2 separate regions of the Homo sapiens genome follow, and region 2 is linked to region 1. Evidence: fine-mapped expression QTL. Tissue or cell type: whole blood. Region 1 holds a variant in brackets; the other region holds the start of a gene. All regions are shown on one strand. Distances are between the middles of the regions.

Region 1 (8,108 bases):
ATTAAGTTTCTTATTACTATGACTACCACCCAGATCATCCATGTTTGAAACTTCTTACACATCTGGAATCTTCTGTTTTTCTAGATCCCTGTCAGTCAATGGCCAAGTCCTGAAGACTCCATGTCTGCAGTCTCACTCATCCCTTCCTCTTCATCCCCATTCCCCATGTCTCACTGATCCCCTCCCTCCCTTCCCTCCTGTGCACTGCCATCTTTCATCCAGCCTGAGCATATCTCTGAACAGATCATTCCTGTTCTCAATAAGCTTTGCAACAATTATGATGCTGCTACCCCAGTGTTTCTCAACATTTAACGCATATCCCCTTTTGATTAATATAAAAATTGCATACCCTTGTATACATAGACATTACAGACATAGAGATTTTTTTCTATTCTTTAAATATAAAATTATAAAACTCAACGTGCTTCTTCAAACTCTACTCACTATATCCCTACCTCTGTCTGAGAATCACTATTGTTAGACTATGGACTCTCTGAAGGCAGGGCCTAGGCCAGTACCCAGTACATGACAGGCACTCAATAAAAGGCCTTGTTTATTAAATAAACTTGCTTATTTAATAAATAATATTTAATAGGACTATTATTAAGTAATAGGACTTGTTTATTAAATAAACTACTAAACCTTCACATTCAGGGTTATCCACTATATAAACTCAGTCCAGTTGTCCAATTTCAATATCCTACTATTCTCTAGTTGCACTTCACAGCCGATCAAATTATTCCAGCGGTTCTCAAAGCATGGTCCCAGGACCATGGGCATCAGTACCATCTGCGAACTCATTAGAAATGCAAATTCTCAGGCCCCACCCTAGACCTGCTGAATGGGAAACTCTGGTCTAAGAATAGGAGTGGGAGTAGAGCCTAGTAATGTGCGTTTTTATTAAGTGTTTCAAGTGATGCACGCTAAAGTTTGAGAACCACTGAAGTCGCCTATTCATTCTTATGTAAACATTATCCTTTCTACGTCCATGACTGTTCTTACATTCCTTCTACGGGGAAACACCTCAGAACCTAGTCCAGAGCCTGGGTAGTGCTCAGTAAATGTTTGTTTTGTTTTGTTTGACTGAACAGCCAAAAATCATATGAGGCCCACTTGATAGCCCTCATATAACTTAACTGAAATCACGCTTCTTTTTATGTTTACACTATTTCAGCTGATATTCAGAAATGCAAACTCATTCATAGTAACAATGTCGATATTCTAAAAGCATAAATTGACTATAATTTTCTATATTTTGAGAGTAAACCACGTATCATCTACCTTTCGGCATTCACAGCTTTTTACAAATTTTGTCATTTGTAAGATCTTAAGAGGAGATACCTGTTCTCAATTCCAAAGTGAAAAGACTTAAAATCTTTAAATTTAATAATTCAAATTTTCTAGAGCTGAAGGTAGGTACTTATTGATACTTATCTGTCCAATTATTGAGTGTCAAAATCATACAGTTGCTCCTGGGAGCCAGGTGAGACACTGGCTAACCTTGAAGGCAATGCAGGCAAGTAAAGACTTGCACTAAACAGGCAGATTCTCATGAGGAAGAAAATTGAAACCAGGAAGAAAAAGAATCTGGTGTTCCAAGCTGAAGAGAATTCACCTAAATTCCCAGATAACAGTAAAACCCACACACATGAAATGTAGTAAGTCATTAACTTGAAAATTAATAGAAATACAATTGTTCATTGTCTTAAAGGAAAAAAAAACTGTATAATAAAAACTTGAAAATACTAAAATACTACATACACACACATGCACACACACACACAAACACACACACACACACACACTACACATACAAATAGCCACAAAGCCAAGGTCATTTAAATGGCAGAGGTCATATAAGTCCTTCTAAGGAAATGGGATGCATTCTTGATATTAAGATGATACTTCATCAAAAAGACATGATTGGCAGGAAATTGCCAGAGACTACCGTCAGATTATGTTGGGAGCAATCTTACATTACCTAGGACAATTTTCCCCTTTTTAGTTAAGGAAATAGCTTCAGAAACATTACGTTACTTTCGCAAGATCACAGGTTTAAGCTATGTCACAGCCCAGGTCTACTTATTCTTAGACCAGAGATCCTGTCGTTATACCATTCTATTGTCCAGGAGAACCAAGATCTGCTGATGACCAAGAACCACAAAAGAAAACACGTTAAAATTTTAAGCAAGACCACTTGTAACTAAATCCGTCTGATTACTCGCCAGGTACATGAACCACCTTTACCAGGTCTTTAGCACGTTGCCTAACAAACTACGGTAAAGTCCATGAAAAGCTCAAGACAAAAATGTGGTTTCAATGTTATGAACATTTGCAAAACCAGGGTCATATAGAATTTAAATACGTAACAAGCAAACCTTAGTACATAAAAGAAGCAGATGGCTCTTTTATAGACACCCTGAAATGGGTTAAGTAAATGATAACAAACAATCTCCAAGAAGCTCTGTTGCTTTTGTTCTGCAACTCTCAAAACACAGGCTGGAACAACGTATTTTTAATTTGATGGTTGGCCTGATCCTTCTTCAAGTTCTGGTTTCAATAACTCCCAGAGACAACTCTTAACCTGTTAATCCATTTTAAATATATAGGTCAAACATCATTTCAATAATAAAATATCTAAACTCCCACCCATACTCCAGTTATTTTATGTACTAACTATGACATAATCTTTTTGGTTGTAGAGTTTTAGGACTGAGAAGGAAGGACTTTTGACACCATGTAATTCAATAACATCATTATGTAAAAGAAAGAACTAAGATTTCTGAAACAACTTTAATACAACAAAAAGCTTGGTAATCCTTGGGATTACCATAGAGAGAGGTCGTAGGAAAGTGTGCCGAGTATCCTATGTGTTAAATGCACATTGCTCTCCATATTTCTATCTTGTTTGAAATATTGTGAGTACATACCACTTTTAAAATTAAAACACAAAATTCAAAGCAAGGGTTTGCTGCTTAATTTTCTTAAGATTTTAAGAATTAAAAAAAAACACTGGATAATCTGGTAGGAAAATTTCAGTAACATTACTGTGAAAAAAATTACTATATACAGAGGGTTCCCCCCTCCCCCCAACACTCAGAAACACTGTCATTCATCCTCATAACATCCCATAACATAGAGTAGAAAATAAAAGGTGAGAAAAGATAAAGTCTTTATAACAGAGAATGACTCTAATTTAAAATTTTCAAAAACATTAAGCCTTATAATAATATTTCAGTGACAAATAGAGCCTTTAAGATGGTTTCTATATAGCTGAAGAAACCGAGGCACAAAAAGACAAAAATTGGAAAGCAGAGGCAAAAAATTAGTAACAGCTTTAAATTTAAGATTGCAAATCCTGAACTTTATATCCTAGGTAAAATTCCAAGAACTTTCTTTGCTGAAGGGAAAAATAAAAGGATGCATATGCCTTATTCACAACAGCTTGTGCAGACACATTATTAACATACCTATTGTTGTTTCGACAATTTCGGCAGTTAACACACTCCAGAGGGTCAATCTGAGGCACGGCCGTGTACATTCCACCACCCTGGACAGGAAGGAGTGTCAGAGAAAAAGAAAAGAAGAAGGAATGCTGAAGGTACTCACAGACCAGTAGCCAAATAATCACAAATACACATGAGCCATGTCAACCATAAATGGGCACACAGTATATTCTAACCAACTCCCAGAGCAACGTCATTGTGAATATCACTGACCCATATTCACAAAGGAGTGAATGAGAGTTCTGCATTAGATTTAACTGTATTCCAAAAACTTCACTGCCATGTTTTCCTACGTATTTCTGTACTAGACAAAGGTAAATAAATGAAGGGAAAAGTTTAGTCACTTCCCTTCAAATCTAGTGGGCTCAAAATACATTATATGTTATAGCCTCCATTCATTTTCCCTTTCTTGGCAGTCAGGGAAGAATTTCATGTGATACCAGTTGGAGAAACAGGGTGTAAAACCTGTGTAGATGATGTCACATGATAAACTCATCTTCATTTTCCTGTAATTATTTCAATTAGGTCTGTTCACTTGACAACGCTAAGTTTTAAAGCATGCTATATTTTTCCAGATGGAGTAGATCTTCAGCCAGCAATGACTTGGAGGGGGTGTGTTAATATTTGGATGTTGCTTTTGGCGGAAACTGCCCAGCAATTAAGAAAAATGCCCAGATTAACACATACCTCATTGTAAAATGTTCACTTGACAGACAGCAAGGTTCTTCAAAAATGAAGTTAAAAATTAAACTAGCCTGATAGTCAGAGGCAGAATTCTGCTTTCAGAAGAAAAACAGCAGAACTGAATTTGATAAAAGGTGGGAGAGGCTGTCACACTGCACCCAAACCCAAAGCAGGCCTTCAAGGTTAGGAAAAGTTCAGGCAATTGTTTTTCCTAGAATACTTTCCATTTCCATTCATTTCATAACAGTAGCCAGAATCTAAGCAAACCAAAAGTCCTGAAAATTTCCTTCAGTGTTTCTGATCCAACCAGCAACAGGAATTATTAAGAACATATCGAGAGAAAGAACTCTCCTATACTATATTCCATCTGAGGGAAAACCTGAAAGGCTCAGAAAATGAAGTTCACAACCTGCAGGGTAACGTTGTGACTTACGGATTCTCTGAATCCCTCAACACGTTGAAGTTAGTGCAATGATTTTTAGGGTCACTAACACTGTTAAAATTTCTCTATTTCCCCCACCCAGAAAAGTAAGAAAACGAATA[A/G]TTTAGAATCACAGATAACTTCTGACATTGTACACCAAATGGGGCACCTATTATTTAAATAGAAATTCATTGTTCAAAAAACCCAAGGTTCCGTGTTCAAACACTAAAGCGAACATGGGCCTTATGTTTTCTTCTTATGGAAACAGTGTGTGCTATTCAAATGTTAATGCTCTCTCCTTCAGTTTTCTTGGACAATGGTAGTAGTTTGGACTAGGAATGGTGACCAAAAAAGCTTAGAAAGTCTGAATACATGCTGTATCTTTCCACACAAAATAGTGAAATCATGATTCTCTTTTAGTAATGAGATGCATTAAAGCAAATTAATATTTCTTCCACAACATACAAAAGCTAGGTCACATAAAAGCTATTCAATTTCTAGCTTTAAAATATGAGTATATATTAGTTTTGTTCTCCAAATAGATTTTAATAAATCTTTAATAAACTGAAGATGGGGGGAAAAAAAACTCTAAGCTTCTTCAAATTGTAGCACATTGTGGGTCATGGTAAATTTATTTGTAATCAGAACAATGACAAAAACTGAATGCTTAATTCCATCAATTAAACAAATTATCTATTTGATCAAAAGTAATATAGATGTGCATCCAAACAATGTCATAAATCAAACTTTCTAGTGCAGAGAACCCCACGTAAGTCTAAAATATGCTAGTCATTCTACTACCATTTCAAAAATTAAACGCTATCAACTAGTTATCTCTGAAATAAGGTTGTCTTAAGGGTTTATCACTCTTTGTGTGGCTAAAGAATACTAACATTGTAAAATGTAAAAAGCTTACCAGCCACAACAACAAAACATATTGGGCAAAACAAACAAAAGAAGCCCATGAAAGGTCAGAAGTCACAACCCGGTGGCCTGCAGAGATGTTTGGCATGGCCTACGTATGTTTTCAAAAATTTGAATTAGGTGCCAGCATGTAAAAATCTGTCAATTTCACTTGGATTTACAGAGGTTTTGAAAAATCAGAAAATTTGGCAACACTGCGCCCTCAGTCCATGACGACTGTAAGTGTCAAACCGCGGCTGCTTCCTGAAGACACTGTCTGTGCTCTCCAGGTGGCCATCGCCTCCAGTGCTACCATCTCACTCCCACAATTTCCTGATCTGCCTGACTCTTTTCGGCATTTGCATTTTCAAGACCCTGCTCTCGATAAATCAAATTTAAAGTATTTGGTATTTCCATTTCATCTAAAGAACAACTTCCAGTCTGTTCACTGCTGGTATTCCACTTTCAGTGTTAAATAATTTTAAAATGAAACTAAACTGATGAACATAACTATTACCTGGCAATAGAAAACAACTTACAAAGACTACTCTGGATCAAAGGGCTGCCAGTGATCCATGCTGTTTCCATTCGAGGAAACTTGTGAGGTTTCTATACTGAACAAAGCCAAGCATGCTGTCCCTGTTCTAGTACTTGGCACCCTGAGGGACAGAGGGGCTTTTATTTATAGTTAGGTCTCTTACATTCACTAGATGATGAGGATGTTCAAAATCCACGTGTGTCCTGGTTAGAGAGTTGCTGTGCCCGGAGTAAAGCCCTCCATTTAGGCTCCCATTCACAATTCCATTGACTGCATTGGGGACCTTATGGTGAAGGTGGGAATAGCCACTGCTGAGACCGCCATTGGTTAGGAAGCCTCCGTGAACATTTCCATTTATCTGACTTGCTCCTGAGAGAGTGGTGTAGTCCACCATCTGCCCGTTCATATCTGATCCTTGGTAGAGATATCCTGGTGGGTCATATTCTGTTAAAAGAGAACAAAAAAGACACACACGCACACACACACACGCACGCACACATGCACATACGCACACACGCATGCACACATGCACATACGCACACACGCACACACGCACACAGTAAGACACTAAAAAGGACAATCTTCTTGCTGAGAAGGTCTTACAGATAAAACCCCTACGAAACTACAAATAGACTAAAATAAAAACATTTTTAAAATGTTCACTTAAAGCCTACTTGTAAGACATGCTTTAATAAAGTTACTGCTATTATTTTCCATAGAGTGTAGAGATAGCTGTGAACTCTGAGTTAATTATGATTCTGTTAACGGGAAGAAAAATCACCTAGGGAGAAATTACTCAAAAGAGAATGAATATATTGGGCAAGCTGAAACTATCAGAGTACTGGCAATACTAGGAAAAAGTGCTTAAACTCCTATATATTATACTTCTAAGTGCTGAAAAAAACTGCATAAAATGACAACAAAAGACTAGCTTTAGGTGGGGTATTTCAAGTAGCAATAAACAACTCTGTTAAGTAAAAGGATGGAGTTGTATATACAGTCACTGATCATTCATATAGCTCCTTAGTCATTACAGCCAATTTGGAAGGTGTGGAGTACCAAAGGCAAAAAGTGATTCTATTTTCTTTTTTTTTTTTTTTTTTTTTTTTTTTTTTGAGATGGAGTTTCGCTCTTGTTGCCCAGGCTGGAGTGCAATGGCGTGATCTTGGCTCACTGCAACCTCTGCCTCCCGGGTTCAAGCAATTCTCCTGCTTCAACCTCCCAAGTAGCTTGTGCGTGCCACCACATCCGGCTAATTCTTTGTATTTTTAGTAGAGACAGGGTTTCACCGTGCTAGCCAGGTTGGTTTCGATCTCCTGACCTCGTGATCCGCCCACCTCGGCTTCCCAAAGTGCTATGATTACAGGCGTGAGCCACTCCGCCCAGCCTTCTATTTTCTTCTATTAAAAGCATACAAATGACTGCCTCAAAACTGATTTCCAGAGGCACATCTACCAGATATATTTAGAAAAAGTAAAGTATCTCTTAGAAACTAGAGTGTCCAAACTGTACAGGATTTGTTGTTGGAGTCTGGATAAATTCTTCGAAGGTAGGAGAGCTTGCCAAGGCTGGATTAGGTGTCCCTCCTTTCCTTAGCTGCCCACATTACTGTGTGCTCTCGCCCAGGTGTGTAGTCTCAGTACACCTGCTTGTGGTCTCACTAAGCTACACACTTTGAGAGGGCAGAGGTGGTGTTTATTTTATTTACCATTACATCTCCACTGTCCAGAACAGTGCCTGGTATACAGAAGACGATGATTATCTTTTGAATAAATGACTGAATGAACACCACCATGAGAATTTTCCATTTTTAAACATTATCAGGTCACAAAGTAGGATGACTTTAATCTGATTAATATGGCTGGGACGACCAGATTAATGTTCTCTTTTAATGATTCAACACGCACTCACACAATTAAAGGCAATGGCATTAAAACCATTTAGAAAATCAAATGATCACCATCCCTTTCAGATTAATACTTCTCTTTTCATGATTCAACACGCACTCACACAATTAAAGGCGATGGCATTAAAACCACTTAGAAAATCAAATGAT
Region 2 (8,108 bases), 84 kb after region 1:
TGGTAGAGGGCTACATGGGAGTAGGACGGAAAAGACTGTGCACTATTTACAACACGACTTTACTTGGAAACAAAATATATCAAATGAACCATCAAATATGCTACTGCATTCTGCATTAGCTGAAAACCAGGAGCATTGGAATTCACATTCTTGGTAGATGAAAACCAATTAACTACACCATCCACCATTCAGAACTGGTCTTCCTTGAAAAGTACACAAGAAACAAACTGGGCTAATATTCTGAAAAAAAGTTTGTGCCCAAACATTATTTGAGGCAGGGGAAAAGGGACTTGGGAAGGAAGACACACTAATGTTTCTCAAAAATTTTGCTCCAAAGATTTTACAGAATGTTTTTGGCAGATAGATTTTCATTTACTTGGCGCTGCTAGCAAGTCTGCAAAGTAATGCCTCAGAAACACTAGAAATGATACAATTCTTAAAAAGACAACAGAAAAGACATAATCTAAATTAGAATTCTATAATAATAATAATGTAACAGAAACAATCAAATTCTATCAATAGTAAACTAAAATATGCCTATTAAAACAAGCATTTCATCACTGCAAAACCATTTGTTTCACATGAAGTCTGATTTTGCTCTCAGTTTGAAAGTTATTAAAACGATACATCAGCCTTTACAGGCAAGACCAAACAGTAAGATAATTTTACATATTTATCAAAAGATCATTCAAAGAAAACTTACCAAGTCTGCAACGTGTATATGCTTGTGCTTCGGAGGGAAAGCAGAGAAGCCACTTTCTGTACTTACACTGGAGTTCACTTCAGTGCTGAAAACACATCACTGTAGTCCTGCTTGTAATAAAGTCCGGACTAGCAATCTGCCTTTGGGTTGGGCTTTTCTCTTACAAGATAAGCTGTTAAGTCATGCCTTGATTTTAGATCTGCCAACATATGGAGTCTTCTAATGTAGCCTTCCCTCCACCCCCTCAACCCCCCCTGCCCGCATCCCCCCAATCCCCGCTCTGCTCCACTCCCTCTGCACACACACACATACACACATACAAAAAAGGCACTGCAGGGCAGAAATTCCTCAGGTGCTCGCTAATGGAATTCCCAGGGTCTTGGAGCCGCTTCGGGGATCAAGAGATCTCATAGCCCCCGCTGGGGTAAGGAGCAGCGAGTCTGTTCCATTTAATCAAATACAGAATGAATTTTCAGCTCTATTCACTAGCTTGTCTCCAGGGCTCTCAAAAGGCACCAGGCAGCTAGAATCACACACATGTGGCTCTTTTAGGCAAGTATAATTAGCTTGATTTTAAAAAGCCACATTAATAATATCACCTCAGGACCATTATTCAGGAGACAGATGACAATGATACTGTATGTTTTAAGCCTGACAATGGGGGAAAGAGCACAAGCAATGAGGGAAAACTTGAAGGATTAAAAAAAAAAAAACCAAGAAACCAGTTTTTCATTTAATTGTAATCCAATATTTTTCAAGTGACATTAAGAATATTCCATACACCATCCCTTCTTTTTAACAAAAAAGAATCAAGTAAAGCCCTCCCCTGTGCTGTTGAAAGTGAGTTAGTGCCAAATACACAACAAAAACTTATCACATGGAATGATTACATACAATATAAAAATTTAAGTAAAAATAAAACATTCTCAAATTCAAGTTCACGAAATTTCTTGAAAAAATTCCCCATTAAAAAATACTGTAAAAAAGCAAGTCCTTCAACTCAAAATATTTGGCAACCATACTCCAAATTCTGTTTCTAATCTAATTAGTTTGTATTAAGTTCATTTACTTAAAGGGGGGCTACCATGTACGCAGCTCATCTACAGCTCCACTGTATTGTCTTACCCATACTTCTACATCATGCCATAGCTGATCACAAGGCGCTGGCTCATATCATTACACGTTAAAGCAACACATTTTTCAACTCATTATTTATTTTCTAACGCTTCCCTGATTTTTACTACGATAATATTTAATTCCTGAAATCATTTCCCTAGTATTTAACTTCGAAACAATCACCAATTTTTAGTCTAAACGTTCGTGGAAAAAAAAAAATTCTACAGAAGGAAAATTTTACTTCAACTTACATTTCGACAAAACCATACATGAAATTGTCTACAAAGTCATGAAGGCAGATGGGCGAAGTGGGAAAATAAGAAGCAAGCCCAAGAAATAGTCAACAAATTTTTACCTGCTCTCTTTAGAACAAAGCCCTAGGACATTAGTTCCTATTCCTACCTACTGCCTTCAGCTGTATATACCCTGACGATCTGGAGGAGAAAGTCCTATCTTAAAGTGAACTTAATTCTTTTCCTGCAAAGTCAAACCACCTGCAAAGAAAGCAAGGCGTAAGCTAGATTTAGAAGCCAAGCTACACAAGCTAGATCAGTATCCAAGTCCTAAGGGTTCTTTGTACTTGAAGGCTTGAGAGTCAGAGCTGTTTAAGTACTTTGCACAGAAGAGGAGGCTGATGAGAACCATGGCAATCAATCAAAGCATCCCAAGTGAGTTATTACACAAACAACAGCACAGTACCTCTAGTAACTGATTCTCCTGGCTGACTAAACTATTCAAACAAAGACAGATTTCCCAAACACTGGGAAGTTTTTGCATGAAAGTTAAACAGTATACATTTGTGTGTTTCTTAATAGAAATATAAATGTTTCTGTTCTACACACTGCCAAACACACACCCAGGGCACGTCTTTACAAAATGAAACAGGTTTTCTCCATCCTTCTCATATAACTTCAAGTATGAGGCAGTTCATTCCAACATGTGCATAACAGAGACTGCAGTATTTGGTGCTTCTCGGGTTCCAAAGAATGCTTTCTAGTTAAGCACTAATTTAAAATTTCCAGAAAATTTTTTGAAGGTTTTCTTTCATCTTATCTTAAAAGTTGAACTATCCCCAAATTTTCAGCTAAAAATAGACTGAGGGTGGGGGAGAACTACAAAATGTCATAGAATGTTTAGAATTATGCTGACAATAAACTCATTTCATTTTCTAACACCCTCCCCACCTTCCTCTCCTTGGAGACACTGTCCACTAGGTATGCCAAGTGTCAGTTGGGAATTTGAGGGTTATGTTATCAGCGCCGAAAGGAATCAGAATTCACTGACTTGGCGTCTTTCATCTTTACTGGCATAGGCCTGAAAATAAATCTCATGTGAGCTTTTAGTCCAACCTCCTGTTTTTCAAGGTGTCTGGTTTGGGACACAAAGGCTGACTTTCTGTTGATGAGGTTCTCTAAATTCTGGATTCCCACTGGAAAGCAGTCTGCCCTTAAAGCACCTGCCACCCTCTGTCGTCCTGATGAGGAAGGGCAGGCATTCTGGAAACAGCTCCTTTTGGAGAGCCTTCCACCTGATTTGGTGGGGTTAGGGAGAACAATGAAGGGAAGGGCAAGAGAGTCTATCTATCCCCCTCAGTGATTTATTGCTGAAATTCCTAGATGTGGAGAGAAAGCAACAAAGGTCTGGAAGCTGCCGACTGAAATAAATAGCGAGCTGTAATGTATTTAGCAAATGATAATGCAATCCACAGAAAGCTTTACAGAGGAGAAGGAAAAATACACTCCCTGGGGCTGGGAAGTCAGTGAGTCTTGTGAAGGCAGAGAAAGATACATTGTGCAGGAAATTTCTCTTGCTTCTCCCTACACATAAATCACTGTCTCTCGCGGGCGCTCTGCAGGGATGGAGATTGAGAGAGGCCAGGGACCCGGCTCCCTTGGGAAAACGCGCGGGCGCCCTAGCTCCCCGCTCTGCGGCATCTCACCTGCCCCCGAGGACCATCGTCAAGAAGAGGTTTCGTCGTGTCACTGACACCTCACCCCGCCTCCTCCCGCGAGGTGCCTCCGAGCCCCCGAGGACGCGGAACGCCGGGGCTCCCCGCCGGGCAAGCATCAGCATCCAGACCCCGCACGCAGCCCTGCACCCCCACGCCCTCCAGGGAACGCCGGCCCGCCCGTCCCCGGGACCTCCCGTCCCCTAAGCCAAGGCCCCCCAAGCCCAGTGCCCGCGCGCCACCCCTCCCTCCGACCCTGCGGCGGGACCCCCACCCCCGCACCTCTCCGCGGGGCTGGCTAAGCCTCCAGACCTCCTGCGCTGCAGCCGGCTCGGAAAGCCACCCCCAGGTCATCCCCCCGCGCGCGCGCGGCGGCGGCTACGGTGGCGGCGGCTGCGATCCGAACGGGCCCCTCCATGCACCGCGCAGGGCAGAGGAGGGAGCGGCGCCTCGCACGCCGGGGCTGGGGCGCTGGGCAGGGCGGGCGGGCGTGGGGTCCCGGGTCTCCTCGCACCTAGCCGCGCGAGCCGGGCTCCCGGGCTCAGGGGAGGGGAGCTGAGGGGCGGAGTCACCGGGGCGCGCCCCCGCGGCTGCGCTCCTCCCCGCCGGGGAGCGCGGGCACGTAACTCGGAGGGTGCTGGGCCGGCCCGGAGCACGCGAGCAGCGGGAGGAGGGACCGGGGAATGACTGACGGAGGCGGGCCGTAGAGGCCGCTGTGCCCCGCCGGCCCGCACCCGGCCGGAGTGTGCGCGCGCAGCCTGCCAGATCAGCGGCGGGGGCACGGGCCGTACCAAGTGACGGAGGGGGGCACGCTCTGGGCAGGACCCTCTCCTCGTCATTGACCTGCCTACTCTGCAAGAGAGATACCCCAGGGGAGCATAGAAGAGGCTTTTCTTGGGTGTAGGACAGGTAAGGGTGAGTTGCCTTACCAAGTCACGGAGATTCCCATCATGCCTGCACTCACGCTCCCCTCACCTTTCATTCCCTTGGAGAGACGGCTCTTCTGGCAGGTCTCCAAATGGTCGACTCTGTCCCCCGAGGCCCCGCCCTAGCCTCGTTCGGGCCCCGCCCTAGCCTCGTTCGGGCCCCGCCCTAGCCTCGTTCAGGCCCCGCCCCTCGCCCCGCCCCGCCCCTCGCCTCTACCTAAGTTCTCTGAGCCGCCAACGGGTGCATCCCTTCTCCCGGTTCTTGCCTGGTCTCTCTTAGGGTTCCAGCGGCCCACCGCTTATACCTCCTTCGCCTTTCCACCACTTTCCATGTTTAATTCCTTAGGCAGCTTCATCTGATTCCCCCACCACCACCCACCCGCCCTGCCTGCACATAAACGCAAGCAGGTAGCAAAACTCAGGGGCTAGGAGAGGCGTGGTGTGAGCCTTTGGCCCCAGAGTCTTTCCAACTCGTCCGTTGGACCTGCCCCAAGTTATCTGAACTCAATGAACTTCAGTTGTTCAAACAGAAAAAGGAAAAATAAATTTCTATTCAAAATGTTGCTGTGAAGCGTAAATACGATACTTTGTGAAAAGCACCTGCCACTCAGTGGGCATTCAAGGACTGTAACTTCTTTATAAATTGTTATTATTAGCAGTTAGCTCTTTTTTTTCCCCATCATCATTACTTACTATTAGCTTAACTACAAAAGGATCCCTAATAATAGTTAAGTTTATAAATACTCAGTACTGAACTTCAGGAGAAATATGCCAGTCCTCCCTTACCTTCTTACGTGAATTTTAAAAAGAAATGCTTTGAAAGTGTGGTATTGTTCAAGCAGGTTAGCTTTCTGCATTAGCTAGATTCAGGGTTTTTGTAAAGCCCCTGGAAAGAAAGTCAGTACAGGACGGAAAAAAAAAACACAATTTTTTTTCTTAAGACGGAGTCTCACTCTGTCGCCCAGGCTGGGGTGCTCTTGTTGCCCAGGCTGGAGTGCAATGGTGCGATCTTGGCTCACTGCAACCTCCGCCTCCCGAGTGCAAGCGATTCTCCTGCCTCAGCCTCCCAAGTAGCTGGGATTACAGCACGTGCCACCACACCCGGCTAATTTTTGTATTTTCAGTAGAAACGGGGTTTTGCCATGTTGGCCAGGTTGGTCTTGAACTCCTGACCTCAGATGATTCTCCCGCCTTGGCCTCCCAAAGTGCTGGGATTACAGGCGTGAGCCACCACACCCAGCCAGAAAAAAACTCTTAACTCTAGTTTGTCCTCCACTGTTCTATTGTTCACTTTTGGAGACCAAGAATCTATATGTTATTAACAAGCTATGGTAAACGATTTTTCATTCGGCAAGTAAGTCTTTCTATAGAGGATTTAACTGAAATGAGAGTTTTGTGTGGATGTTAATAGAAGTCTTGCAAATTTATTGTGGCTACAGAGAATTCCAGGTTCTTCTCCTGGGACATAATGCACTTTGTGCACCTCCAGATCTCACAGTGCCATTTGAATTCACTATGCCTACTGTTACTCATAGTCAGACTAAGAAAAAAATCACAATGTTTGTTGATATTAATTACTTCCTCTCCCCCTTTTTTTGTAAAGCAGAGAAATCATTTCAGGTGTAAAACAGTTTTTCATTAATGAATCATTCATCCATTTGTTCAACATTAAGAAACAATGTGCAGTCCCAAGCTTCAAAGAGCTCACAGTCTAACTGTGATACAGACACACACGTGGGTAAGTACAAGGAGACATCTTCAGTGCAATGAACAGGGAGCTGTGTGAACACAAGGTCAGTATAGTATTGAGTATAGTATTAAGAGGTGATAGTATTAAGAGGTGATAGTATTAAGAGGTGATAGTATTAAGAGGTGATAGTATTAAGAGGTGATAGTATTAAGAGGTGATAGTATTAAGAGGTGATAGTATTAAGAGGTGATAGTATTAAGAGGTGATAGTATTAAGAGGTGATAGTATTAAGAGGTGATAGTATTAAGAGGTGATAGTATTAAGAGGTGATAGTATTAAGAGGTGGAGACTTTAGAAGCTGACTAAGTCATGAGGACCACCCTCATGAGCAAGATTCATGACCTTATAAAAGGGCTTCAAGGAGCTAGCTAGCCCCTTCTGTCCCTTCTGCCGTGGGAGGACACAGAGAGGTCATCATCTGTAAGGAGTAGGCACTTACCAGACCCTGAATCTGCAGGCACCTTGATCTTGGATTTCCCAACCTCCATAACTATGAGAAATAAATTTCTGTTGCTTAAAGAGTACCCAATCTAAGGCATTTTGTTATAGCAGCAGAAACAGACTAAGACACTATGGGGCCTCCAACCACAGATGTCCACTATGTAGAGAACTCCAAGTGGAAATACGGATTTAAACGTCATCAGCATAAAGTAGTGTTTATACCATTAAAGTGGAAGCGATCTCTCAGGAATAATATGGAACCAGAAAGTTGTAGCCAAGGATGGATCTCTAAAACTCCAATAACTAAAGCCCCCAATTATCTTGATGAATTTGGAGCAAAGGCTGTTTACTGAACTCAAGGTATGGGACTTGAAAAGGATGCTTGAAGAAGGTGGTGAAGGTTTGGAATAGTCATTAGGAAAAATGAGAGTTGAAAAATGAAAGTAGAAAATCACTCAGAGAATTGATAAGTGATGCTGAGGGCCTGGCTGAGGTTGGAGACCATTAATGTATGGTGATGGAGCTTGCATGATTATGTGGTTTTCTCCATCAAAATTTAATCAGTCAGGTAGAAGGGGAAAAGCATAACACCAACCCAATTTTGAAGTTTTTCTGGAAGTTGTACAAGAAGGAAAATAACACACGGTATTGGTAAGAAAATTTTTAAAACAGCAATCATAGAATCCAGGCAGTGGAAAAGGTGTAAGAGGTTTGAGAAGAATAATAGACTGGAAAAATTACAAATTAAAGAAAAGGAGATATGTATGACATTAAAGAGCTGTTGTTACAGGATTGAGTAAGAAAGAACCAAGAAGTCTTTGGTAATAACCAGAGTTTACCATTTCAGAAGTAGAACAGTTCCAAGTAATGATTAGATCTAGTATGTTTACCGGTGCTGGTGGACGATGTGGATGATTTATGCCGTCAGGGGACATATTGAAGGAACTGAGAGGCTGATAAATGAAATACCATGAGCCAAGTACTCAAGTCCTCAGGGATGAGGTGGGAAGGTTGTTAGATACTAAGTGACATTTAATACATTCCAGGCCTGAAGTGGGTGCTTTTATAATACTCAATACATGTTAAAATTGGTTCTCCAAGGCCGGGCGCGGTGGCTCACACCTGTAATCCCAGCACTTTGAGAGGCCGAGGCGGGCAGATCATGAGGTCAGGAGATCAAGACCATCCTGGCTGACATGGTGAAACCCCGTCTGTACTAAAAAT

Evidence for each region. PIP is the estimated chance that this variant, and not a neighbour inherited with it, causes the effect.
Region 2: it holds the start of CDON, and the variant in region 1 is fine-mapped to the expression of CDON in whole blood (TOPMed, PIP 0.97). The same link has a PIP of 0.9 or more in hippocampus.

What each region holds. Positions count from the first base shown.
Region 1 is chr11:125,974,834-125,982,941 of GRCh38, forward strand. It overlaps CDON (cell adhesion associated, oncogene regulated), which reads right to left. Exons shown (of 20, transcript NM_001378964.1): 17 at 6,216-6,496; 18 at 3,471-3,550. Among named protein-coding and RNA genes, the nearest start is that of VSIG10L2, 33 kb to the left of the region's middle. The variant A/G (reference allele first, on the strand shown) is at 4,734.
Region 2 is chr11:126,058,530-126,066,637 of GRCh38, forward strand. CDON (cell adhesion associated, oncogene regulated) reads right to left here and starts at 4,337. Exons shown (of 20, transcript NM_001378964.1): 1 at 4,050-4,337. RefSeq lists an enhancer at 1-1,894 and silencers at 4,095-4,764, 4,835-4,924.